Homo sapiens: one gene and its partners. The main gene of each other region encodes a partner of the protein of the gene in region 2 in a complex. Each region holds a gene or a part of one and is shown on either strand. Other genes may lie near its edges. The genes, in order: MED16, MED31, MED7 and MED20. A codon is read from its position in the direction of its gene.

The links.
Region 1: MED31 (region 2) and MED16 share a complex: the UniProt entries of both Homo sapiens proteins name them as parts of the mediator complex.
Region 3: the proteins of MED31 (region 2) and MED7 are in contact, whole or in part, in a cryo-EM structure (PDB 7EMF), measured with the Homo sapiens proteins. Residues at the interface, in NP_057144.1 of Homo sapiens: Asn14 (codon at 5,984), Arg15 (codon at 5,987), Leu16 (codon at 5,990), Arg17 (codon at 5,993), Phe18 (codon at 5,996), Gln19 (codon at 5,999), Leu20 (codon at 6,002), Glu21 (codon at 6,005), Leu22 (codon at 6,008), Glu23 (codon at 6,011), Phe24 (codon at 6,014), Gln26 (codon at 6,020), Tyr33 (codon at 6,041), Phe36 (codon at 6,050), Leu37 (codon at 6,330), Tyr42 (codon at 6,345), Asp45 (codon at 6,354), Ala47 (codon at 6,360), Phe48 (codon at 6,363), Asn50 (codon at 6,369), Tyr51 (codon at 6,372), Tyr54 (codon at 6,381), Tyr57 (codon at 6,390), Glu62 (codon at 6,405), Tyr63 (codon at 6,408), Lys65 (codon at 6,414), Tyr66 (codon at 6,417), Lys68, Tyr69; in NP_001094286.1 of Homo sapiens: Met15, Gln16, Tyr17, Ile18, Lys19, Tyr21, Thr22, Asn25, Ile26, Lys33, Pro34, Pro35, Pro36, Pro37, Ile38, Lys39, Asp40, Tyr42, Met43, Met44, Phe45, Gly46, Gln48, Gln50, Asp52.
Region 4: MED31 (region 2) and MED20 share a complex: the UniProt entries of both Homo sapiens proteins name them as parts of the mediator complex.

What each region holds. Positions count from the first base shown.
Region 1 is NC_000019.10:876,179-883,207, forward strand, and holds part of MED16 (mediator of RNA polymerase II transcription subunit 16), read right to left. Parts: intron 5,537-7,029; coding exon 5,381-5,536; intron 3,971-5,380; coding exon 3,759-3,970; intron 1,003-3,758; coding exon 796-1,002; intron 1-795. UniProt on the Homo sapiens protein: Component of the Mediator complex, a coactivator involved in the regulated transcription of nearly all RNA polymerase II-dependent genes.
Region 2 is NC_000017.11:6,648,589-6,656,405, reverse strand, and holds the start of MED31 (mediator of RNA polymerase II transcription subunit 31), read left to right. Parts: upstream 1-4,800; 5' UTR 4,801-4,877; coding exon 4,878-4,905; intron 4,906-5,972; coding exon 5,973-6,050; intron 6,051-6,327; coding exon 6,328-6,424; intron 6,425-7,817. Other genes in the region: uncharacterized protein C17orf100, read right to left, coding at 4,136-4,492. UniProt on the Homo sapiens protein: Component of the Mediator complex, a coactivator involved in the regulated transcription of nearly all RNA polymerase II-dependent genes.
Region 3 is NC_000005.10:157,136,924-157,139,894, forward strand, and holds the end of MED7 (mediator of RNA polymerase II transcription subunit 7), read right to left. Parts: intron 2,526-2,971; 5' UTR 2,509-2,525; coding exon 1,807-2,508; 3' UTR 501-1,806; downstream 1-500. UniProt on the Homo sapiens protein: Component of the Mediator complex, a coactivator involved in the regulated transcription of nearly all RNA polymerase II-dependent genes.
Region 4 is NC_000006.12:41,918,132-41,926,120, forward strand, and holds the start of MED20 (mediator of RNA polymerase II transcription subunit 20), read right to left. Parts: upstream 3,009-7,989; 5' UTR 2,888-3,008; coding exon 2,874-2,887; intron 2,813-2,873; exon of another isoform or gene 2,669-2,812; intron 1-2,668. Other genes in the region: BYSL (bystin), read left to right, coding at 3,432-3,699. UniProt on the Homo sapiens protein: Component of the Mediator complex, a coactivator involved in the regulated transcription of nearly all RNA polymerase II-dependent genes.

The DNA of each region.
Region 1 (7,029 bases), on a different chromosome or scaffold from region 2:
ACAGAGGAAAACAAGTGAAGCTCAGAGGGCTGGTCCCACGTGCAGCTGCCGGCTGAGCTCGTTAGATCTGAGGTCCTTCGAGGACACTCTGGGATTGCAGGCACATAACCACACCACTGCAAGGGACCCTTCTGGCACGTGGGCCTCCGTATCCGCTCCCTCCTCTCCTTCCGACGGGCGGGTCTCTGTGTGTTCATCTTCTGACCGTGTTTGCTGAGGCCTCACACCACAGGGCCACCGGGTGTGCATCCTGGTACCCATCACATTCTGAGAGGATGGCTTAGAAAGATACCTCCAGACTGGGAACACTGGAGAGGGGAGCCGTCCAGGGGGGATCAGGCCTTACCTGTGGGGCTTAACGTGTTACAGAAGAAACTTCCCAGGTAAGGAAGGAAACTGCTTCTCTGAGGTGCAGCTTTCCTGGACGGGCCTCTGGGAGCACACCCCACACGCAGCCTCACCTGCCACAGGCTACCTGCCCCTCTTGCCCTCCGCCTGCCATAGAGCCCCCAACCTGCCGCAGGGAAACCCCTCCAGCTGCCACAACCCCCACATCTGCCGTGGGGACCTCTACAACTGCTGCAGAGACCTCCTCCACCCTCCAAGGGAACTCCCTCCCTGCTGCTGGCACTTTACTGACCACGGGGCCCCTGCCTGCCACAGGGACAGCCCCACCTGGCACGGGACCACCTGCCACGGGGCCCCCACCTGCCACGGGGCCCCACCTGCCACGGGGCCCCCACCTGCCACAGGGCCCCCACCTGCCACGGGGCCCCACCTGCCACGGGCCCCCACCTGCTGCAGGGCAGCGGTCTGGCGCGTGTACTCCTCGTGCAGCTTCTCCACCAGGCTCTGTACCATACTGGGCTGCACGTGCAGCAGGATGTCCCACCAGTCGTAGCCGGTCACCATGCAGTACTCCAGCAGGAAGAGCAGGTGCCGCAGCGCCAGCCCCACCTCCAGCGGGTGGCCCATGGAAGGTGAGAGGCGGAGCACGCTCAGCTGCCAGAGACAGAGCCCAAGGAGAGCCCGGTGAGATGGGGCTGCGCCCTCAGCCGGGAGAGGAATGGGGCCCTGGGGCTGCGGCACGTGTGTGGATCTGTGTGCGCGCACGCCCGTGTGTGGGCCTGTGTGCGCGCATGTGTCTGTAGCGTCTGTACCTTTCTGTCAGGGTCATGCACAATGCCTCTGGGAACAGGGAAGGAAACCTCCCTGAGCCCCGACTGCACTGGATGCCGAGCCAGGCTTACACTCGTCTGCTTTACCTGAGGAGTCTACCCCGTGAAAGGCGGTCCTCTCAACAGCTCCTAGTTACGAAGCTCCTAATACGTGCTGTGAGCCACCCCACTGACCTCGCTCAACAAGACGAACCCATCACACAGACAAGGCAGCGCAGGCAGGGGCTGGCGAGGGGCTTGCACCTGTGGTCCCTTCCCCCGGGGGCGCCTCCCTCTGGCACCCTCCCAGCCCCAGCCCCAGCCCCAGACCCACGTGCCCCAGCAGCTCGCCTTCCCCTGGTTGTCAATGCCCACCAGCCCCTGCCCCACGTGCCCCAGCAGCTCACCTTCCCCTGGTTGTCAATGCCCACCAGCCCCAGCCCCAGCCCCAGCCCCAGCCCCACGTGCCCCAGCAGCTCGCCTTCCCGTGGTTGTCAATGCCCACCAAGCCCAGCCCCACATGCCCCAGCAGCTCGCCTTCCCCTGGTTGTCAATGCCCACCAGCCCCAGCCCCACGTGCCCCAGCAGCTCACCTTCCCGTGGTTGTCAATGCCCACCAGCCCCAGCCCCAGCCCCAGCCCCACGTGCCCCAGCAGCTCACCTTTCCGTGGTTGTCAACGCCCACCAGCCCCAGCCCCAGCCCCACGTGCCCCAGCAGCTCGCCTTCCCCTGGCTGTCAATGCCCCCCAGCCCCAGCCCCAGCGCCACGTGCCCCAGCAACTCACCTTCCCCTGGTTGTCAATGCTCAGCAGCTCACCTTCCCGTGGTTGTCAATGCCCACCGAGCCCAGCCCCACGTGCCCCAGCAGCTCACCTTCCCCTGGTTGTCAATGCCCACCAGCCCCAGCCCCAGCCCCAGCCCCACGGGCCCCAGCAGCTCGCCTTCCCCTGGTTGTCAATGCCCACCAGCCCCAGCCCCACGTGCCCCAGCAGCTCACCTTCCCGTGGTTGTCAATGCCCACCAGCCCCAGCCCCAGCCCCAGCCCCACGTGCCCCAGCAGCTCACCTTTCCCTGGTTGTCAATGTCCACCAGCCCCAGCCCCGGCCCCGGCCCCGGCCCCACGTGCCCCAGCAGCTCACCTTCCCCTGGCTGTCAATGCCCACCAGCCCCAGCCCCACGTGCCCCAGCAGCTCACCTTCCCGTGGTTGTCAATGCCCACCAGCCCCAGCCCCAGCCCCACATGCCCCAGCAGCTCACCTTCCCGTGGTTGTCAACGCCCACCAGCCACAACCCCAGCCCCACGTGCCCCAGCAGCTCACCTTCCCCTGGTTGTCAATGCCCAACAGCCCCAACCCCACGTGCCCCAGCAGCTCGCCTTCCCCTGGTTGTCAATCCCCACCAGGGCCAGCCCCACGTGCCCCAGCAGCTCCCCTTCCCCTGGTTGTCAATGCCCACCAGCCCCAGCCCCACGTGCCCCAGCAGCTCCCCTTCCCCTGGTTGTCAATGCCCACCAGCCCCAGCCCCAGCCCCAGCCCCACGTGCCCCAGCAGCTCACCTTTCCCTGGTTGTCAATGTCCACCAGCCCCGGCCCCGGCCCCGGCCCCGGCCCCGGCCGCAGCTCCACGTGCCCCAGCAGCTCACCTTCCCCTGGCTATCAATGCCCACCAGCCCCAGCCCCAGCCCCACATGTCCCAGCAGCTCACCTTCCCCCGGTTGTCAATGCCCACCAGCCCCAGCCCCAGCCCCACGTGCCCCAGCAGCTCGCCTTCCCCTGGTTGTCAATACCCCCCAGCCCCAGCCCCAGCCCCAGCCCCACGTGCCCCAGCAGCTCGCCTTCCCCTGGTTGTCAATGCCCAGCAGCTCACCTTCCCATGGTTGTCAATGCCCACCAAGCCGAGCCCCACATGCCCCAGCAGCTCGCCTTCCTCTGGTTGTCAATGCCCAGCAGCTCACCTTCCCATGGTTGTCAATGCCCACCAAGCCCAGCCCCACGTGCCCCAGCAGCTCACCTTCCCCTGGTTGTCAATGCCCACCAGCCCCAGCCGCACATGCCCCAGCAGCTCACCTTTCCCTGGTTGTCAATGCCCACCAACCCCAGCCCCACGTGCCCCAGCAGCTCGCCTTCCCCTGGTTGTCAATGCCCACCAGCCCCAGCCCCACGTGCCCCAGCAGCTCGCCTTTCCCTGGTTGTCAATGCCTACCAGGGCCACGCCCCAGCAGCTCGCCTTCCCCTGGTTGTCAATGCCCAGCAGCTCACCTTCCCGTGGTTGTCAATGCCCCCCAAGCCCAGCCCCACGTGCCCCAGCAGCTCACGTTCCCCTGGTTGTCAATGCCCACCAGCCCCAGCCCCACGTGCCCCAGCAGCTCGCCTTCCCCTGGTTGTCAATGCCCAGCAGCTCGCCTTCCCCTGGTTGTCAATGCCCACCAGCCCCAGCCCCACGTGCCCCAGCAGCTCGCCTTCCCCTGGCTGTCAATCCCCACCAGGGCCAGCCCCACGTGCCCCAGCAGCTCACCTTCCCCTGGTTGTCAATGCCCAGCAGCTCGCCTTCCCCTGGTTGTCAATGCCCACCAGCCCCGGCCCCACGTGCCCCAGCAGCTCACCTTCCCGTGGCTGTCAATCCCCACCAGGGCCAGTGACGTCCACGATAGCTGCATAGCCTTTAAGTGGACGGCGGGGCCCGCGGTGCGGGGGCGCTTCATGGCCGGCTCATCCACAGGCCTCGGGGCCGCGGAGCTGTAGAAGACGGCCATGGTCTGCAGTGAGAGCCGGTGCACGATGTGGACGCTGCCGTCGTGGAAGGCCAGGGCCAGCCCTGTGGGGCACAGGCACTGCTTAGACATGGGCAGGGCCCAGGACACGCCCGCCGGGGGAGGGGCCTCCTGCTCTGCAGGGTGTGGAGAGCCGGGGCTGCCCATCCAGGGGGTCAGCCCCCGCCAATCGGCATCCAGCGCCCGTGCCCCCAGCCACTCTTTCTTTAGTTACACAGTCCCTGAGCACCAGGGGAGCAGGAGCCAGCAGCCTTGGCCACACTGCTCCCAGCCCCTCCCCGCCCCTCCCAGCTGGGCCCATGTCCTGGCTGACACGCCCCTCAAGGAGCGCAGGGGAGGGGGGCACTACAGGTGGGGGACCAAGGGTTGGGGCTCCTGGCGTCCCAAAGAGAGGCATCTTAGGGTGGTGGGCTGGGGCTGTCACTCACACTGGGGTCTGCCATTGTACGAGGGCCGGGGGGAGGTGGGGTCCAGAGCCCAAAGCTCATGGAAAAGAGAATATGAAAGGAGTCCCTGCAGTAGAGAGGCTGCAAAGCCGGGCGCGGTGGCTCACGCCTGTAATCCTAGCACTTTGGGAGGCTGAGGCGGGCAGATTGCCTGAGCTCAGGGGTTCGAGACCAGCCTGGGCAACACCGGTGAAACCCCGTCTCTACTAAAATACAAAAAATTAGCCGGGCGTGGCAGCACGCGCCTGTAGTCCCAGCTACTCGGGAGGCTGAGGCAGGAAGGAGAATCGCTTGAACCCAGGAGGCGGAGGTTGCAGTGAGCCGAGATCACACCACTGCACTCCAGCCTGGGCAACAGAATGAGACTCCAACTCAAAAAAAAAAAGAAAAAAAAAAATAGAGCCTGGAAAATGGAGCATAAACCAAGGGTTTTGGAGCAGGGAACTGCATCCCCTCAACCTCTCTGCAGGCTCTGAGGAACAGCCCTGAGCCCCGAGCGGGTTTTGATAAATGCTCTTTCCAGGGAACCAGGGAAGAACGGGAGCTGGGGGAAGAAAGGGCCTGAGCTAGGGCCGACTTGTCCACATTTTACAGCTGAGCAAATAGGGTAGGCACTGAAGAGTGTGCAGACTCACTCATGGGCACGGATGCCACGGTTTGAGCTCAGGACCACATTATGGCTGCTGCAGCACAGAGAGGACACATGCCGCCTACCCAGGAAGGAGTTCCACCAAGTTCCCCAGGCTCCCTTGTTGATTTGCAATGACTCTTTACATATTAAAGAACACTGGATCTGTCTGCCAGCCTCACAGATCCCGAAAGATGAGATCTGCCTCCTAATTGGGAACCCATCAGAACCCAGAAGGCTGAGCTCCTACAGCCCCATGGCCTGTGCTCAGAGCCCACGTCCTCTGGTGTGAGCTCCCACGACCCCGTGGCCTGTGCTCAGGGCCCAACTCCCCTGGTGTGAACTGAGGCCCCGCGTGGCTGCCGCTGGCTCCACCGTACCGAGGCCAGGGTAGAACTGTGTGTCGCTGGCCACCTTGAGGTCGGTGTTGGTGAGCGAGATGGGCAGCTTGGGCAGCGCCACGGCCGACACACGGTCCAGATCGTTGGTGGCCGATAGGATCCGCCATTTGAGAATTGTGGGCTGTTTGTCGCCAACTGAAAAATCAGGGGCAGGAAAACAGGAAGGCAATGGAGTAAAGACAGGCTGAGACAGCCGCAGGAGTCCAGCATGGCCTGGTGTGCAACCTGCCCAGGGCCCTTCCCAGGTCTCATGCCGCCCTGCTCCCATGCCCAGAAGACCAGGCCCGGCCAATCCGAGCGCTTCGTGCCTCGGCCACTCATTGGTTCCAGGATGGGCACGTGACCCAAGGTGGGCCCTGGGATTTCATGGAAACCTGTGGGCCGGCACCATCTCACCCCCGATGGGGCAGACAGTGGGGAGACGGCGCCACCTCAGACCTGCAGCCATGCAAACCCTAACACTCGCTCGGCCTTAGCCAGCTCAGCCGGGATTCCCATCCCTCCTCATCTACAATTCCAATAAAGCCATGCGGGATGGTCGCACCCACAGATCCGCTGCCTGACAGCCCCTGCGTGAAGACGCAGCTCCTCCCAACAGGGCAGAGACTTCTGGGAATCTCAGGCCAAGCCTTAGCAAATGTGACATGGCCGGGCACAGCAGCTCACATCTGCCACCCCAAGACTTTGGGAAGCCAACGCCAGAGGATGGCTTGAGTCCAGGAGTTCAAGACCAGCCTGGACAACACAGCAAGACCCCATTCTCTACAAAAAAAACACAGTAAACATTAGCTGTGTGTGGTGGTGATGCACGCCTGCACACGCCTGTAGTCCCAGCTACTCAGGAGGCTGAGGTAGGATTGCTCGAGCCCAGGAAGATGAGGCTGCAGTGAGCCAAGATCACGCCACTGCACTCCAGCCTGGGCAACACAGCAAGAGCCTAGCTCAAAAACAAAAAACAAAAACAGTGGCCCAGAGAGCACGTGTGGGGGGTCCTGCTGTGGCTGCATGTGGGACACGGAGGGCAGCTGGAGCCGGCCTGCTGGAGCATGTGCGGCCAGTGGACAGGCCACGCCACCTCGGCTGCTAACCGCAGACACGTGGGAACCAGGAGAGCGCAGCTGAGGCAGCCACAGAAACAGAAACAGTGCAGGGCTGCTGGCCTGAGCTGCTCAGTTTGGGGCTGGCTTGTTACTCGGCTGAAGCTGACTACCACGCAGCTGCTCTGTGCCACCCGCATCATGAGGTCTCTGCCCCGGACGGGCCATCACGGTCACAGAGCCTTGACCTCCTGCAAACCCGTATAGGGGTCCTGTGAGCAGCATTCCCTGGGGGGAAACAGGCCCAGAGAGTGGCTGAGACGCCCAGAGGGCACACAGTGGTCAGGGGTGGCTGGCCCTCATGGAATTGAGCCTCTCATAGGAAAGACAGGAAACTCAACGCCCCAGCGCCGGGGGAGGCAGCTGCCATGACGACCACACCCCCAGCTAGTGGCCAGGGTACCCTCACAGCACGATTTACATCCCCTCCTCCATCCAACTGACGGCTGCGGTCAGCATTCCTAAATGAGGGGGGACTTGAGGCAGGGAGAAGCTAAGCTGCTAAGTGGGGATGTGGGGCAGTGGGTGAAG
Region 2 (7,817 bases):
GAATGAGGGGCGCTCAGGAGCATCCCCTTAATTCCAAGGAGATCGAGTAGCGGAAACATTTATTGAGCGTTTACTGTGTGTCACCAACTGCCCACCATAGGGAGGAAAAAAGGGAGGAGGGAGCGCGCCTTTCCACCTTCCGTGCCCCGTCCCCTCACCATGGAGTCGCGGGGCCACCTGCTCCGTGCGCATTTTCTCTCTTTCTGGCTCCCTTTGCCCCGCTTTCTCGGAAGCTCGGAGCAAGGGCGTGGAGTGCGGGGAGCAGGGCTCCGCAGGTTCAAGAGGACGCGGGCGATCGGGGGCGGGACGGATATTGGGCAGGGACGCGGGAGATGCTCAGGGTCTAGAACTGACTGCGCCGGATTCTTGTTTAGAGGGAGGTGAAGAGAGGAAGGAGGCGCGGGTGACACCGGGGGAGGCAGGAGGAGAGGGCTGGGAGGTGGGGAGAGGGGAGGACCTCATCCGGGCATGTTGCTTTGACGTTCCCTGAGACAGACATCCGGATTTGGCGATCTGGGAGAGAGCTAGAGCAGTGATGGGAATTTGGGCTTTCGCGGAAGAAAAAAAGTAACAGGACCGGGTAGAACACCCGGTAGATATGACATGAGATATGACGGGAGGTGGGTCGGGAAATCGAGAGCGTTCTCCTGTCTTGACTCCCCATCCCTTCCCTCTCACCACCCACTCCACCCCAGGTGATAAAGCCTGAAAGGTAGAGATCCAACAGCGCTAGCGGTTGAAACGTTTTTTAAAATAGAGAAAGCGAGAGGACCGACGGCGGCTCCGGTGACTGCTGAGTTTCCAGACAAGGGAGCTCTGTGCAATGAGGGGCGCACAGGAGCATGCCCTCAATTCCAAGAAGATCAGGTAGCCGGAAAATTTATTAAGCGCTTACTGTGTGCCACCTGCGTGTTTTCTGTCCAAATCAGAAAAGGATTTGGACAGAAAACACGCAGGAAGAAGGAATCAACCCCTGGTACAGCAGGCAGGCGAGGTAGGGGTAGGAGTTATGCACGTGTATGCAAGCCTGGATGGCTGGGAAGCCAACCTCCATCTAAAGGCAAGCGCGGACATGCACACACACACACACGCCTCACAAGTTGGATTGCAAGAGAGGGTGAAGTGGGCGAGGAGACCCAGTCAGCCGTGGCATTTGAGGAAGGTACATTTAGGCCACCGAATTCATTCCACCAACTTTGCACACTTGTCTTCCTTGTGCCAGGCTCTGGGACTCATTCCTTTTGAGGGTAAAAGTCTGCCTCCCTGGACTCCTGCCCCTCAGGCGCTCCCACAGCCCGGCACCGCCCCCTCGCCATTCCGGAGCCAGCGCGGGCTAAGCGGGCCTGGCCGGGGATGAGCGGAGCCACCGTCCCCATATTCCTCGGTGCCCCGGGACCGCAAGAGGGAGCCGTGGTTTCCGGAACTCCTCCCGCCCCTCCGGGCTTTTCCTCTGTTAGGCAGGTGGCGATTCGCTGTCTTTGCCTGTTATGGCCGCTGCCGTCGCCCTGGAGACAGGTGAGTAGCGCTCTGAGCCTGGAGTCTTCGCAGATAGAACTCTCCTTGGCCCAGACCTCTTCTCCCGCTTCCCCTGGGCCTCCTTCCAGGCCTCACTCCCGGCAGGATTAGTATTTGGACAGGGAGGAGAGAAGGCTCTTGCAGCGTCTAGAAAGGCTAAGGTACTCTGCAGTTTTCCTAATTTGGTTTGTTCGCACACCTTTGCTATTCAAACACGACCCCACCAGCTTCCCAGCGTGGGCGAGACTAAGGGAGAGGACTTGTGTCTTAAAGCGTGTCCTCCTTGTGTCTTAAAGCGTGTCCTTGATTGGTTTTCTGCTTCTCACATGAGCTTGCATACGTTTGAAATATCGTCGCCAGACCTGTGTATCATTGTGTTACTTGTGATTCTTATATATGCATATGTTCCATCATCTTTTAGGCTCTCTGGAGTCTCTTGTTCAGCTTGCATCCTAAGTTTTTCTTAACTGATTCAGCACGTGCTTTTGCGAAACTTAATCACTGTTAACAATTGTTACAATGCATTATTAAAATAGGGGAAGCCACAGTTATTACAGCCTACCTTAGAGATCACTGTTAAAATTCCTACATAGTGGCCCATGAGTGGTAGGTATTGTGTCTCATTTGTGTTGCTGTTTTCTTTGATGATTTCTCTTTACTTTTAAAGGTAACCCTCTTCCATGACTGTTCCTTAAAGTGGTGCGCTGTCCCAGTAGACCATGCTCTAGCTTTCCAAGCTGCTAGAACTGTCAGTGTTTCTCAGCCTTGGCACTATTGACATTTTGGGACCAGTGATTCTTCATCGTTGGCAGAGGGGAGGGTGTTGACCTGTGCACTGTAGGATGTCAGGTGGCATCCCCGGACTCTACCCGCTAGGTGCCAGTAGCACCTAATGTGCCACCCACCCCCTCCCAACAACTTTTCAACCAAACTAAAATGTCTCTAGAGGTTGCCATATATCCTCTGGGGGACAAAATCACACTTAGTTGAGAACCACTGTCCCACATTCTACACACAGAAGCCAAAAGGATATTTTTTAAATGTAAATGGCATCATGTCGTTCCCCTGTTGGAAACCCTTCAATGTTTTCCTGTTGACCTTAGAATAATCTCAAATTCCTTACTGTGGCTTAGAAGACCTTCTGTGGACTGGCCCCTGCTTGCTTTTAACTCCTCTCTTCCGTTCTGCTTCCATGTCTATATAATTGCTTCTCTCTCACTCCAGCCACACTGGCCTTCTTTCTGTTCCTTGAACATTCAAAGCTGGTTCCCATCCACCCTTTGTATTTGCTGTTCTTCTGCCTAGAATGCACCTGTTCCAGATCACTGTTCATTCACACATATCTCAGATTACATGTTAACTAATCAGCAAGGCCTTCCCTGACCATTTTATCAAAAGAAGCCACTTACTTCCATTCTCTATCACATTACCCATGTATTTCCTTCATAGTGCTAATCACAATAGAAAATTGTCTTGTTTCATCATTGCTTGTCTGCCTTTTCACCAGAGTGTAAGCTCCACTAGAGCTGGGACTTTGCCTTTTTTACTGCTATAGCCCAAGTTCCCAGAATACAGACAGTTCCCAACTTAAGATGGTTTGACTTATGATTTTTCGACTTTACAATGGTACAAAAGTGACATTCAGTAGAAATAGTACTTTAAGTACTCTTACAACCATTCTTTTTCACTTTTAGTACAGTATGCAATAAATTACATGAGATATTCAACATTTTATTATAAAACAGGCTTTCTGTTAGATGATTTTGCTCAACTTTAGGTGTTCTGAGCATGTTTAAGGTAGGCTAGGCTAAGCCATGATGTTTAGTAGGTTAGGGGTATTAAGTGCATTTTCAAATTACCATATTTTCAACTTACAATAGTTTCAACGGGAGGTAACCCCATCGTAAGTGGAGGAACATCTAGTGCCTGGCACAGAGCCGGTTCTCAATAAATATAACTCTTCTCCATCTTCTTCAAACCTCAGGCCAGGTTTCAGTGACCTCCTCTCACTTTCTAAGATTATTTTTGCTTGCTGGTGGGTTTACTGTCATTTTTAACCACATCTAACCTACCTTAAAAAAGTGTATGGATGGGGGTGCCAGGTACAAAGACTTAGCATAAAGAAAACGACCATTTACTTTGAAACATAAACAAAGGCCAATTAATAATTTATGAGTCTGTTCCTTGTCCCTCGAGTTTTTAGCAGGCATGGAATCATTCCACAGGTCATTATTTCAGTTTGGTCTCTGTTCCTAAGGGGTGAAGGTTTTCTGAGGGCTGTGGATCCCAAACTCACCTGGCTCAGAGGCTCAAACAGCCTCTCTTTGTCCATCAACCCGATTTAGACAGCATCCTGGGCCTGAAAACCTTCTGTGCTGGCTTCAAGTGAAAATAGTTCACTGGGTCAAAAGTAGGCTGGTCCAAGACGCAGGACGGTCAGTAAACGTTGGCTGTGTTCAGAAACTGCGGCTTGGCTGTTTCTTACATTGATTTATGGTTTGTTTCCATGAAACCGAAAATGATTGGTCCACCTGGCAGCTGGCTGGCTGGCTGGCAACTGGAGGCCTTTCTGTCCTGGCTGAGGGCCCTGGCCCCTTGGTGGCCTTTGGGAAGCAGCATCTCATCGGGCCGTTTTTTCGTTCTGGCGGGCGGCCGGCTTGGCCCGCGGGGTCGGGCTCTCCGCGCAGTGCAGAGACGTCTCCACCCTCAGGGACGAGGCTCTGACGTGGCGGGAGGTCGTTTCCGTGCGCTGCGAGGAGGATTCCACGTGCCGGGAGGACGCCTCGAGGATGCGAGGGAGCCGCTTCCCCGAGGGGGAGAGGGAGGGCCCCTCGCTGCGGCGCTGGGAGGTCTCCACCCGCCGGGACGACGTCTCCACGCGGTGGGACGAGGTCTCCACGCGGACCGTGGACGTCTCTGTGTAGCGGGTGGTCCCCACCCGGGGCGAAGACTGCTTGGCCCCTCGGGCTGAGGCCATTCTGCCGGCGTGAGGGGGCCAGGGAGGCCTCGGGGCACCCTACAGCCCAATGGTCACCGCAGGCAGAAGAGAGGAAAACTACGGTACTGCCATAGCCGGGAGCGCCACAACACGATGACGTGGAAGCACCATGGTCCTTCGAAGGCTAAAACACTGGACTCCTGCCCCTCAGGCGCTCCCACGGCCCGGGCCCCGCCCCCTCGCTATTTTGGAGCCAGCGCGGGTGGAGCCATCCCAGGGCTGGTCGGGGATGGGCGGAGCCGCCCCGCCCCATATCCCACAGTGCCCCGGGACCGGAAGAGGGAGCCGTGGTTTCCGGAACTTCGCCCGCGTCTCTGGGCTTTTGCTCTGTCAGGCTGGTGGCGTTTTGGTGTCTTCGTTTGTTATGGCCGCTGCTGTCGCTATGGAGACAGGTGAGTAGCTCTCTGATCTTGGAGTCTTCGCAGATGGAACTCTCCTTGACCCAGACCTCTTCCCCGTGGCCTCCTTCCAGGCCTTACTCTTGGCAGGGTTAATATTTGGACAGAGAGGAGAGAAGGCTCTTGTAGCGTCTAGAAAGACTAAGGTACTCTTTGCAGTTTTCCTGATTTGGTTTGTTCGCACATCTTTGCTATTCAGACACCACCCCACCAGCTCCCTGGCGTGGGTGAGACTAAGGGAGAGGACTTGTGTGTTAAACCGTGTCCTCCTTGATTGGTTTTCTGCTTCTCACATGAGCTTGCCTAAGTTTGAAATATCGTCGCCAGACTTGTGTATCATTCTGCTACTGGTGCTTCTTTTTTTTTTTTTTTTTGAGACAGCGTCTGGCTCTGTCGCCCAGGCTGGGGTGCAGTGGCGCGATCTCGGCTCACTGCAAGCTCCGCCTCCTGGGTTCACGCCATTCTCCTGCCTCAGCCTCTCAAGTAGCTGGGACTACAGGAGCCCGCCACCGCTCCCGGCTAATTTTTTTTGTATTTTTAGTAGAGACGGGGTTTCACTGTGTTAGCCAGGATGGTCTCGATCTCCTGACCCTGGTGCTTCTTATATGCATGCGCTGCATGATCTTTTAGGCTCTCCGCAGTCTCTTGCATCCTAAGTTTTTCTTTACTGATTCAGCCCCTAGCGTTTGCGAAACTTAATCACTGTTAACAGTTGTTACAACGCATTATTAAAATAGGGGAAGCCACAGTTATTACAGCCTACCTTAGTGATCACTGTTAAAATTCCTACATAGTGGCCCACGAGTGGTAGGAATTCTCCGTTTGTGTTGCTGTTTTCTTTGATGATTTCTCTTTAACTTTAGAGAAACTTCTAACTTACTCCTTTTAATCAGGGCTCCGCTTTTCTTAGATTTCGAAGGAAGGTTTATCTCCTCCCACTCCTAGTTTAGGAAGACCATCTCAACATTAGTCAGGTTTCTTTATTGCTCTTTCCTTACTACAAATCAGTATTATATACAGTGACCTTTGTTTTCCATGATTTTTGCTGTCTTGTCTCCTAGATGATGCTGGAAATCGACTTCGGTTTCAGTTGGAGTTGGAATTTGTGCAATGTTTAGCCAACCCAAATTACCTTAATTGTAAGTTGTTAAGCACCTCATTAAATTGAGTAGCTATTAATGATTTCTGACAGAAGAGTTGCAGTTCAAAATAGTATCTACTTTTACACATTCTCAGTTGAATGACATTACACTTATGCTGGTATATAGATATAATTGCGTACTGGGACTTGTGTTTTGAATCCAATGTGTGTTGGTGGTGGGGGTGTTATGTAAATAGATCCTTTATATTAGGGGTAACAAATCACAGTTTAAGGATTGGTTTGACCTACAGATTTTTTTTTTTAATGCTTTTCAGTTCTTGCCCAAAGAGGTTACTTCAAAGACAAAGCTTTTGTTAATTATCTTAAATACTTGCTTTACTGGAAAGACCCAGAATATGCCAAGTATCTAAAGTAAGTTTAATTTTTATAATCCTAAGCATGTGTATACTTTATTATATAATAGATTTCTTAGTTTCACATTGGCAAAAATGTATTTGGAATCTCTCCACTTCTTTTTGTTATCACCGTCTTAATACAAGACACCCTCATCTCTAACTTGTAACACTGCAGTAATCTACTCCCTGGTTATCTGTGCTTCCACTTTTACCTTCCTGCCCCCATCTCCACCCCAACCCAAACCAAGCAAAACAGCTTTCTACACAGAAACCAGCTTAATCTTTTAAAAATATAAATCAGAACACTTTACTTTCTTGCTTAGAACCTTTCAATGGCTTTCCATTCCATGCAGAATAAAATCCAGTCTTTTTTCTTGGACTAAAGCCTTATACGATCTGGCCCTGCCTTTTCTGACCTTGTCTTTTACCACCCTTCCCATCTCACCAGGTTTCTGGTCCCTAAGAACTCACAATCTGTAAATGTAGTAGCATAAGCCATGGGCTGAAATTAAAAGAGGGTATCTGTAAGGAAGGTGTTTCTGGGGTTATTTGAAGGAGGTGATCTTACCTGAGTCTTAGAGTTGCTGTCTTTTATTTAAGGCCTCTTATTTGCCAGGAACAGTGCTAAATGCTTCATATGCATTAACTCATTTATATATATATATTTACCATTCAGGTCGTTCAGCAGACACTTTCATGTTAAGGCTTACTAAGTTGCAAGAAACATATTATAACCACAAAGCAATTCCCTTTTAATGGTTAAAAAAAAAAAACAAAAAAAACAAAAAAAACCAACCCACCTTGAACTCACACCCCTGCTTTGTCTTAAGCAGGTAGAAAGCAATAATGAACCTTTAAAAAAAAAAAAAAGTTTGAGAGGAAAATGTTTCAAACTTCTCTCAAAGTCACTTTTCTGTGTCCAATAACAATTGACTCACGAAGCACATACGTCTTATGTTGCCTGCAGGACCGTTTGCACCTTTTCTGGCTTTTTATCCATTTAATAATCCAAAGAACAGACTTTTAAGAAAAGTAGACTTCAACGAATATTGTATGTATGTAGATTTACAGACTCAGTGTTGGAAGCCTTAGCCACCAACAAGTTTAATCTTACCCACAACGTTGCCGAGAGATGGTCATCTACACTCTGGAGGTTTCCATTGAGCCCGTGTTACTCTGTCAGGGACAGCTGATTCGATTGTTAGCCAGATATTAGAAAGTTCTTCCTTATATTGTGATATAATGTACCTCCTTGTAGCCCCAGTCTGTTTGTCCCTGGATGAAGCTAGAACCATTCTATACCCTCTTGAGGACAACAGCCTTCCAGATATTTACATTCAAGAGAGACTGCAAATTAGCCCCTTTTGGGTGTTTTATTCAGTCTGCAGAAGATTTTAGTTTTTTTAATA
Region 3 (2,971 bases), on a different chromosome or scaffold from region 2:
TCCCTATGCTAGAAACCAGGGGCTAAGGAAGAAATAAAAAAGTAGACATCTGGGGAAAGGCATTGCCTCTCAATGGTTCTTTTTTGTTTTTGAGATGGAGTTTCGCTCTTGTTGCCTAGGCTGGAGTGCAATGGTGCAATCTCAGCTCACCACAACCTCTGCCTCCCAGATTCAAGTGATTCTCCCTGCCTCAGCCTCCCGAGTAGCTGGGATTACAGGCATGCGCCACCAAGCCCAGCTAATTTTGTATTTTAGTAGAGATGGGATTTCCCCATGTTGGTCAGGCTGGTCTCGAACTCCTGACTTCAGGTGATCCACCAGCCTCAGCCTCCCGAAGTGCTGGGATTACAGGAGTGGGCCACTGCACCCAGCCTCAATGTTTCTTAATCTTGAGCATGTATCATAATCACATAGGCTTCTTAAAATACAGCTTGCTGGGACCTACACCCAGAAGTTTCTGGTTCAAAAGGTCTGGGATGGAGCCAGAGAACCCTCATTTATTTTTTATTTTTCTGAACCTACGGATTATACTAAAACTTTTATTTCTAGTAAGTCCCCAAGTGATACCAATGCTGCTGGTCCAGGACCACACACTTTAAGAACCACGGGCCTACATTAAGAAAACGGCAGGCAGAGATCCTCAGACACAAGGTCAACTCTCCACTAACACCTTGGTGGAAGAGCAGATGGACAGTCGGGGGAAGAAGAGAAGAAAGTGCTCATATAAAGTCCAATTAGCTAGGGGCAGAGTGGAGTTACTGAAAGGAAGACTTAGTCCTCACGGTCATTCAAAGAACCAGACTGACAATCTTTGCCATCTTCGGTGGCTTCCAAACTTATCCTGGATACGACCGTCCAACCAGCAGCTGGGAGAAGAGAATGGAGGATCATGCAAGAAATGTTTATGGGGCAAGCCTGGATTCCTATGCCCACATTTCACCGCCTACGACTTAGTCATATGTTCTCACAGAGATGCTGGGAGTAGGGAAATGTCCCTGGCTGGATTGCCACATCTTGACAACATATCTTCAAAGAGCAAGAATCTTTGGTAGACACCTAGCAGTCTCTGCCATCAAACCCCTTTCCCATTGTGGACTTAAACAAGTCTGAGCTTAGCTTTAAAGAAAATGTATAGCTAATGACACAGACATCTTAATTACTAAAATTAATGTCTGTAACTTAAAGTGACCAAAGGACTTATTACCTGAGTGACTGGAAAAAAAAACAACAATTTATGGGACTTCCCTGCAAGAGTCCATTCAGGATAGGGAGAAAAGACTGAGCTAGTGGGTTTACAGAAGCAGTCATGAGGAAAAAATGAAGTTTCTATTTTATAACTCTACTGGGCTCCTCTCTATCAACATGTTATGCTACTTTTTGGAGCTTAAGCAAAATTTTTAATGGAATAAGTCTAAAGATTTCATAGTTTTACATGTAGAGAGCTTAATATCCATTTATCTATCATTCTTAAAGCAAATGCTAAATCCCCTTTTCAAAGACGAAAACTTTGCTATTATTGAGGTTATCATCAAAGTTTTACTGCAACTCTAAAACATAGGAATGTCCCATACAACAGCAGCTAACACTTTGCTTTTTAAAGTGATTCTTCTTAGTGCAGGGACACTCATTTGTCTATGCTTGTTATACAGCGAAATTACTGCCTATGACATCTCATAATTGAAAAATTTGGAGTCAAGATTAAAGCTGTTTACATTTTTAGTGAAACTTCTCTTAAGACTGTCCAAAAGAAAATGAACTAATATATGATGCTATTATCAAAAGGAAAAAAAGAAAAAGAAACATCTTTCATGGTCTTTCATTCATCTCATCAATTAGGACACACAAGGCAGCATCTTTCTCTATAATCTGATCTCTCCTATGACCTGAATTTTCTCTTTGATGTTCATTCTGTCCAGTACAATTGTTGCTATCATCAGCATCCATTGGTTCAGTTTTTACTCTCATTCCTGCTTCTGAATGAGGCAAATCATCAGGCAAAGAAGCCAAGCAATTCTGAATCATTTCAATTACTCGTTCCAGGTGCTTTTGAAATCTCTCAGCTGTTTCAAGCCGTTGACGTTTCTGGACCTCCATCATGACTCTCAAGGTCTCTCTTGCTTGGTGGGGTCGGTATTCATTTATAAGATGATGCACGTGTACAAAAAGCAGCTTAAGATCTTCTAGTTTCTCTTCTCGTTTTATACTCCCAGGGCTCCTTATTAAAATATCTAAAAGGTCCAAGAAATTAATAAGGATAGACATATTAAGTTTTCTCAGTTCTTTCTTGTGATCAAACTGCATAGGATGAAGCCGTTCGATGCCCTGACTTTCCAAAGGGCGGATGATAAGATCATCACATTGGAACTGATTGCCAAACATCATGTAACTGTCTTTTATTGGAGGGGGAGGCTTGGGAGCTAAGCCTTCTTGAATATTTTCATCCGTATATTCCTTGATATATTGCATTGGAGGTGGTGGAAGTGCACTCACTTGCTGTGGTTCACCCATTGTGGACTATCAAGAACCTATGGACACAGACCAAAGATTTATTAGAGCCACAAGACAAACCTGTTACATTTCATAACTACAGATGGAATATTTTCTTCCTTTTCTTCCAGCAGTTTGGGGCCGAAGACAAGATGATCTCCTTGGTTTCTAAAACTAACATTTATGATAGGGAAAGTCTGCCATCTTTTCTAAGTAGGCATTATATTCTCAACCATTCACATATTTTCCATTCTCTCTCTAATAATTTCATCAGCATTAAAAAATATGTAGCATCCTCTCATCTCTAAAGAAAATCTTCTGGACTCCATGCCCCTCACCACTTATGCCCCATTTCTTTACTCTTCCATAACCAAACTACACAGGCTGTCTCCCAATCTCATATCACAATCACTTTTGTTTTATGTTATAGATTTATTTCCAATAGCAAACACTTACTTGTATCTCTCATAAACACTCTGACAAA
Region 4 (7,989 bases), on a different chromosome or scaffold from region 2:
CCTAAGGCCTTTAGATGAATTAACTCTCCAAATCCTCACGATAGTCCTATGAAGGTGTGTTATTTATCAACTTGTTACAAATGAGGAAACTGCCGGGCATGGTGGCTCACGCCTGTAATCCCAGCACTTTGGGAGGCCGAGGTGGGCGGATCACTTGAGGTCAGGAGTTCGAGACCAGCCTAGCCAACATGGTGAAACCCTGTCTCTACCAAAAATACAAAACTTAGCCAGGCATGGTGGTGTGCGCCTGTAATCCCAGCTACATGGGAGGCTGAGGCAGGAGAATCACTTGAAACCAGGAGGCGGAGGTTGCAGTGAGCCAAGATCGCACCACTGCCCTCCAGCCTGGACAACAAGAGCGAAACTCCATCTCAAAAAGAAAAAAAAAAAGACGAAACTTGGCCAGGCACGGTGGCTCACGCCTGTAATCCCAGCACTTTGGGAGGCCAAGGCGGGCAGATCACGAGGTCAGGAGATCAAGACCATCCTGGCTAACACGGTGAAACCCCGTCTCTACCAAAAATACAAAAAAATGGCCGGGCGCGGTGGCTCACGCCTGTAATCCCAGCACTTTGGGAGGCCGAGGCGGGTGGATCATGAGGTCAGGAGATCGAGACCATCCTGGCTAACAAGGTGAAACCCCGTCTCTACTAAAAATACAAAAAATTAGCCGGGCGCGGTGGCGGGCGCCTGTAGTCCCAGCTACTCGGGAGGCTGAGGCAGGAGAATGGCGTGAACCCGGGAAGCGGAGCTTGCAGTGAGCCGAGATTGCGCCACTGCAGTCCGCAGTCCGGCCTGGGCGACAGAGCGAGACTCCGTCTCAAAAAAAAAAAAAAAATACAAAAAAATTAGCCAGGCATGGTGGTGGGCGCCTGTAGTCCCAGCTACTCGGGAGGCTGAGGCAGGAGAATGGCATGAACCCGGGAGGCGGAGCTTGCAGTGAGCCGAGATCACGCCACTGCACTCCAGCCTGGGCAACAGAGTGAGACTCTGCCTCAAAAAAAAAAAAAAAAAAAAAAAAGAGGAAACTTAAGTACAGCACAAAGAGGTTAAATAACTTGCACTAGGTCACACAGTTAATGGGTGGTACACTCAAGACTCAAAGCCCAGCAACCTGGCTTGATGTCCATGCTCTTAACCACTAACTAGACTGCCTGTATAAGGATGTAGTGCCTGTTAAAACATTAAGGAAAATCGATTAAAAAATTAATAAACAATAGTACAAGCAGTACTTAGCTATATAGAAATCAAGAAAACAGTCATAGATGACATTGCTTTATGATCAACTAAATGAATCTATTAAGGTAGAGTCCTTCTGTTGCTAAAAATTGTCACTACTCTATCAGAAAAAAACACTGATAAACGATGTTGCTAATGTGCCTTATTTTGAAATACAAAAGAATCCCTAAACTGACGCTACAAGTGACAGAAGTCCTAGGATTCTGAAAACGTTGATAAGGGGGCCAACAGAGAGCCCTTTCCCTGGAGCTGCCTTCTCCATTTAAAGAGCAGGGGTGGCTGGGCACGGTGGCTCATGTCTATAATGCCAATACTTTGGGAGACCAAAGCAGGAGGCTCGCTTGAGTTCAGGAATTCAAGACCTGCATGTACAAAACAGCAAGACCCCATTTCTATTTCTTTAAAAAAAAGAAAGAGCAAGGGTTCCAGGGTTCTACGCTGCATCCTTTCCATTTCCATTCCTCACATATCTTGCTTCCATTAAGGAACACAGGAGGATCGTGTCAATCGTAGGAAGCAAGAGTGCAATCACTGAGAAACCTGCAAGAACCTGGGCTACCAGGAGGAAAAGTATTTCCCCTACACATGCTTTTGTATGAGAAGCCTATATCCACTGGCTTCAAATATCCTGGCCTCCGGATTTCTCCCACGGGAAAAATGCTCACATCTACTGAGATAAGAAAAAAATGTTCTGGGACCTGGCACCTTACAACTAACGCCTCCACGAGCACTGGACCCATACCTTTCCCTGCCACCTCATCTTCTTTCAACTGAGACTTAAAACATATGAAAGATAAAAACTCCATTGAAACTAGACCAACCATGGAATTAAACATAGTGGGAAACGGGTCCTAAAGAGATAAAGTGCCTGGAACCATGATCTCCTTATTATCAATACCCTTTTTTCCTCTAGACCCAAGATCTTAAAATGAGCAAATTAGAAACAGACACAAGCGGGTCTAACTGTATTTGATGGCTGAGGGAAGAGCAGGCGAAAATCTTAAAAAATACTATCTCCTGATTGCTTATGGCCCACTCCCTCCAACCCTGTCTGCAGGTGGGTCATAGTCCAAAGACCCTATTTCCAACCCTGAGGTCCCACTGCAGGCAGTACTATGGCCTCACGGGAAGGAAGATGTATCCAGAAGAGAATGAGGTATACAACCATTGATAGGTTCCTGGGATAAAAAGTTTGCTTTGTCGACACCAGCGTGGCCAATATGGTGAAACCCCATTTCTACTAAAAATACAAAAAGTAACCGGGCGTGGTGGCGGGCGCCTGTAGTCCCAGCTACTCGGGACTACAGGAGAATCGCTTGAACCCAAGAGGCGGAGTGTTGCAGTGAGCCAAGATCGCTCCACTGCACTCCAGTCTGGCGACAGAGCGAGACCCCGTCTTAAAAAAAACAAAACAAAACAAAAAAAAAACCTTTGCTTTCCCGCCTTCCAAGAGGAAGGGGCGCATCTCTGAGGAAACAAGCCCGGGGAACCCGCAGCCCGGACGGCATCCTCTCATCTACACAACCCGAGGACATCTCCCTCAGCTCCCAGAGGACGGCGGACCATGGTCAAGGTCCTCTTTCCGGCCTTTCACAACTCCAAGCCCCGCCCCACAAAACCCCCTGCAGTCCTACCAAGTCACTCCCATGGCGTCGGGCCAGGAAGGTGGCAGAATCACACAGTAGAAACGCAGGGTTCCCTGTCCGCCCACAGAAACTCCTTCAGTTCCCCAACACAACCTTCTGTCTCAGAAGGGACTCCGGAAATACGTAAAAACAGAGCGCCGGGTCCACGCCTTCCCCAAGGAATGGGGCGTGTCTCGGCACCCCTCGGTGACGCCTCCACTGACATCATCTGCGGATTCCCGCCCCGAGGTTTCTAAATCCAGACATTCCCGTTTGGCTGAGCACTCTAGGCCTACATCCATGAAGCTAGGAGAGCGACACTCAAAGACTGCACTATTGAGAGAAGCTAACGTTAAAGGCAGTGAATATATTCGGGAGTCCAGCTCCGGAACCCGGGAGCTCTTTTAGTGGGAGGGGCGGCGCTGATGGCGCTTCTGGCCTCCGAATGCTAGGGGGCGCTGTGATCGCCGGGCGGCCTCTTGGGCGCTGGGAGTCCACCGCGCAAGCGCATCCTGGCCTTTCTTCAGTCCCCACGTGCGATCCTTCCCGGCAACTTTTTCGAGAAAAATGCCCAAATTCAAGGCGGCCCGTGGGGTGGGGGGTCAGGAAAAACATGCGCCCCTGGCCGATCAGATCCTGGCTGGGAATGCGGTGCGGGCGGGGGTCCGGGAGAAGCGGCGGGGTCGCGGGACAGGAGAAGCGGAGGAAGAGTATGTGGGGCCCCGGCTGAGCCGACGGATTTTGCAGCAAGCACGGCAGCAACAGGAGGAACTCGAGGCCGAGCATGGGACTGGGGACAAGCCCGCGGCGCCGCGGGAACGCACCACGCGGCTGGGTGAGTGTCTGGGATGAGGTCCGAGGAAGACAGTGGCCAGTAGTGGGGCGGGGTGGGCAGCTAAAAAGTGTCTGGCAGGGGAATTGCTTCGAGTCAACAAAGGGGTCCGTATTACACTTGCAAAGGAGACTGAACCCTGTCTAGAGCCCTCCGCGTCCACTCCTAGTTTTAGGCACTCCCTTCTAGACACCCCCGAAGTTAGGCCAACAGTAATCGATCGCGCCACTAAGTGCTCCTAGCATGTATCCATTGGTTTTGTAAATATTTATGGGATACCCACTACGAGCTTTGCGCTATGCTCGGAATTCTATCGAATGTTTGGGTACAGAAGTAAACAACACAGGCACGTCTAACTTAAGGACCTTACAGTCAAGCCCAGCAGAGAGGCAATTAAGTAGACTCTTAGAATAATATATTTCCATGATAAAGTATCGTTTCCCTGGTAACAATAGCATTGGTCTTGAGAAGCTTCTCCGATTGCAGCAGGACCTTTAAGCTGAGAACTGAAAAACGAATGGGAAGTGTTATGAGCAGAAAACACATTGTTTAGCAGCCAAAGAGCGAGAGAGATGAATTGAAAGACGTCTGATGTTTTCTCACTAGGGAGGGAGTGTTGACCTCTGAGGTGCTTCATCCGTTTCTCAGATCTCATCTAAAGCAATATTTGACACAATTGAATAGTGGCCTTCTGGCCACAGTATCCTTACTTGGGTTCTAAGACATCAACACTCCTGTTTTACTGCCACCTCACTTCTCAGTATCCTTGGCTGACTCTTATTGCAACCTCTTCTCCTCAGTCCTCTGACCTCTTCAAATATTCTCTGGTGCTGGCAAGTTTCATGGTTTAAATACCATCCTTGAGTGACTACTCCTAACTTTATAGTCTAGCCCTGATCTCTTCCATGAAATCCAGATTCTTATATTCAACTGCCTATTTGGCATCTCCAATTTGAAATCTAACAGACAGCTCAAATTTAACATGTACAAAACAGAAATCCTGACCTTCCCTCCAAACCTGCTTCTCTCACCATTGCCTTCCCTGTCTCAGTTAGTAGCATATTCTTTCATTTGCTCGAGATAAACTTTAGACTCCTCTCTCTCCCTGCCCCCACCATCTCCTCTCTCTGTCTCTCCCTCCCCACATCTGATCTGTAAGGAAATTCTGATGACTTTGCCTTCAAAGTGTATCCAAAATGAGACCACTTTTCACCGCTTTGGAACACCATCCTGTCGTAGCCACCACAGTCTCTCACCTGGATTATCACAGTAGCCTCCTCGTTAGTATCTCATATTCTCCGTTTTTTCTTTTTTTCTTTTTTTTTTGAGACAGAGTCTCTCTCTCTCTCTGTCACCCAGGATAGAGTGCGGTGGCACAATCATAGCTAACTGCAGCCTCAATCTCCTGGGCTCCAGTCGTCTTTCCACCTCAGCCTCCCACGTAGCTGGGACCACAGGTGTGTGCCACCATGTCCAACTAATTCTTTTTTTTTTTTTTTGAGCCTGTCGCCCAGGCTGTAGTGCAGTGGCGCAATCTTGGCTCACTGCAACCTCTGCCACCTAGGTCCAAGCAATTCTTCTGCCTCAGCCTTCTGAGTAGCTGAGATTACAGGCGTGAGCCATCACATCCAGTTAATTTTTGTATTTTCAGTAGAGATGGGGTTTCACCATGTTGGCCAGACTGGTCTTGAACTCCTGACTTCAGGTCATCGTCCACCTCTGCCTCCCAAAATGCTGGGATTACAGGCGTGAGCCACCGCACCTGGCCGCTAATTATTTAATTATTTGTAGAGATGAGGTCTCACAGTGGTGCCCAGTTTGGTCTCAAACTCCTGGGCTCAAACGACCCTCCCTGCCTTGGCCTCCCAAAGTGCTGGGATTACAGGTGTGAGCTACTGCACCCTGCCGTGTCTCATACTCTCTACAAAGTACTCACAGGTGGGGGATTACAATGGTCTACAATGCACTATATGATCTGCCTCCTTTGCCAGTCTGACCTCTTCTACTGCTTTCCTCTTTGCCCATTCCACTCCACCTATTTAGGCTTCATTGTGCCTTAAACGTGGGAAATTAGGGGGTTTGGCCTGGTTGTTCCTTCTCTCTGGGATAGTTTGTTCTCATACACTTGTAGGGTTACTTTCTCAGAGAGGCCTATCCACTCCATTTAAGATTGCAGCACTCTACTCCATCTCCATACTCCCAGCATTTCTGCCCTATCTTTTTTTCATAGTACTTATCTTTTTTTTTTTTTTGAGACAGAGTCTCGCTCCGTCACCCAGGCTGAGTGCAATACCACGATCTCGGCTCACTGCAACCTCCACCTCCCGGGTTCAAGCGATTCTCCTGCCTCAGCCTCCCAAGTAGCTGGGATTACAGGCGCCCGCCACCACACCCAGCTAATTTTTTTTTTTTTTGTATTTTTAGTAGAGTTGGGGATTTCGCTATGTTGGCCAGCCTGGTCTCAAACTCCTGACCTCAGGTGATCCACCCGCCTCGGCCTCCCGAAGTGCTGGGATTACAGGCATGAGCCACTGCACCCAGCCCATAGTACTTATCTTTTAACCCAATATATTTATATGTTTATTTATGTCTGTCTCTTCCATTTAGACAGGATTGGGTGCGTTCAGGGTGGTATGGTCGTAGACTATCTCCTCCAATTAGAATGTAAGCTGTATAGAACAAAGTCTTTTGGTTTCGGTTGTTCGTGGATATATTGCCAGCACCCCGAACAGTGCCTCACATATAGTAGGTGCTTGGTGTTTGCTGAATGACTGGGTTAATCGGTAATGAATGATGGTCAGGTAGGTGGGAGCCAAGCCTACAAAAGATTTTAAAACCATCCTAACAGCAGTGGGAAGAATGGGAAGCTACTGGAGAATTTTAAGGACAGGGCTGATCAAATCAAATATGTGTTTCTGGAAGGTGACCGTCTGCAGAGTGGAAAATGAGTTGGAGGGAAGCAAGGTCAGAAACATAGAGACCAGTGGGCGACTGTTGAATAAATCCAGGCAAGAGATGATGCTGATCTAGGCTTAGATGGGGCTGTGAAGCATGTGAGAGACAGTCTATGAGGTAAAATTGAATATGATTTAGTAATTGATTGGGTGTTGAGGGTGAGGGCAGGGGATGAGGCAAGAGTACCTCCCAGGCTTAGCATTGGGTGGACGATGGTGCCGTTTACTGAGCTGTGGATGGTTAGCAGTGTAGACCTAGGAGGGAAAGAAAATTAGTTTAGTTGATAACGGGTGAGATTTGAGGTGCCTGTGAGTCATCCAAGAGCAGCTTACAGGAGACACCTGGAGTTAGGGTCTGGCACTAAGGAGAACCACCTACAAAGTACAAATTTGGGGGACCGTTGGAACGTGGAGACAAAATGTCTGTTCCCCCTTATTTAGTGTTTATCACACACTGCCTTTGTTGTTAATGACCTATTGATACGTAGCATTATAGCTCCCCACTTGGATTATTAGACCCCTTTCCAGATGCCCAGACATGTAGCCTTCCAAAAACAGAAGTTATTTAAATGGACTAACTTCATTTTTTTTTTTTTTTTTAAGACGGAGTCTCGCTCTGTCGCCCAGGCTGGAGTGCAGTGGCACGATCTTGGCTCACTGCAAGCTCCGCCTCCCGGGTTCACACCATTCTCCTGCCTCAGCCTCCCGAGTAGCTGGGACTACAGGCGCCCGCCACCACACCCGGCTAATTTTTTGTATTTTTAGTAGAGACGGGGTTTCACCGTGTTAGCCAGGATGGTCTCGGTCTCCTGACCTCGTGATCCGCCCGCCTTGGCCTCTCTAAGTGCTGGGATTACAGGCGTGAGCCACCGCGCCCGGCCTATTTATTTTTATTTATTTATTTATTTATTTTTTTGAGACAGAGTTTTGCTGTTGTTGCCCAGGCTGGAGTGCAGTGGCGCGATCTCGGCTCACCTCACCTCAACCTCCACCTCCCGGGTTCAAGCGATTCTCATGCCTCAGCCTTCCCAAGTAGCTGGGATTATAGGCATGCGCCACCAAGCCCGGCTAATTTTGTATTTTTAGTAGAGACGGGGCTTCTCCCTGTTAGTCAGGCTGGTCTCGAACTCCCAATCTCATGATCCACCCGCCTTGGTCTCCCAAAATGGTGGGATTACAGGCGTGAGCCACCACGCCCAGCCAACTTCATGTATTTAAATGGACTGGTGGATTGAAATCTGAACTCTACTGCCTGAATTTAAAGGCCCTCCAGTCTGGCTTCACCTTTCCCACGTACCTAGCATTATTTCTTGCTATTGCCTAGGAGACTCTTATATCC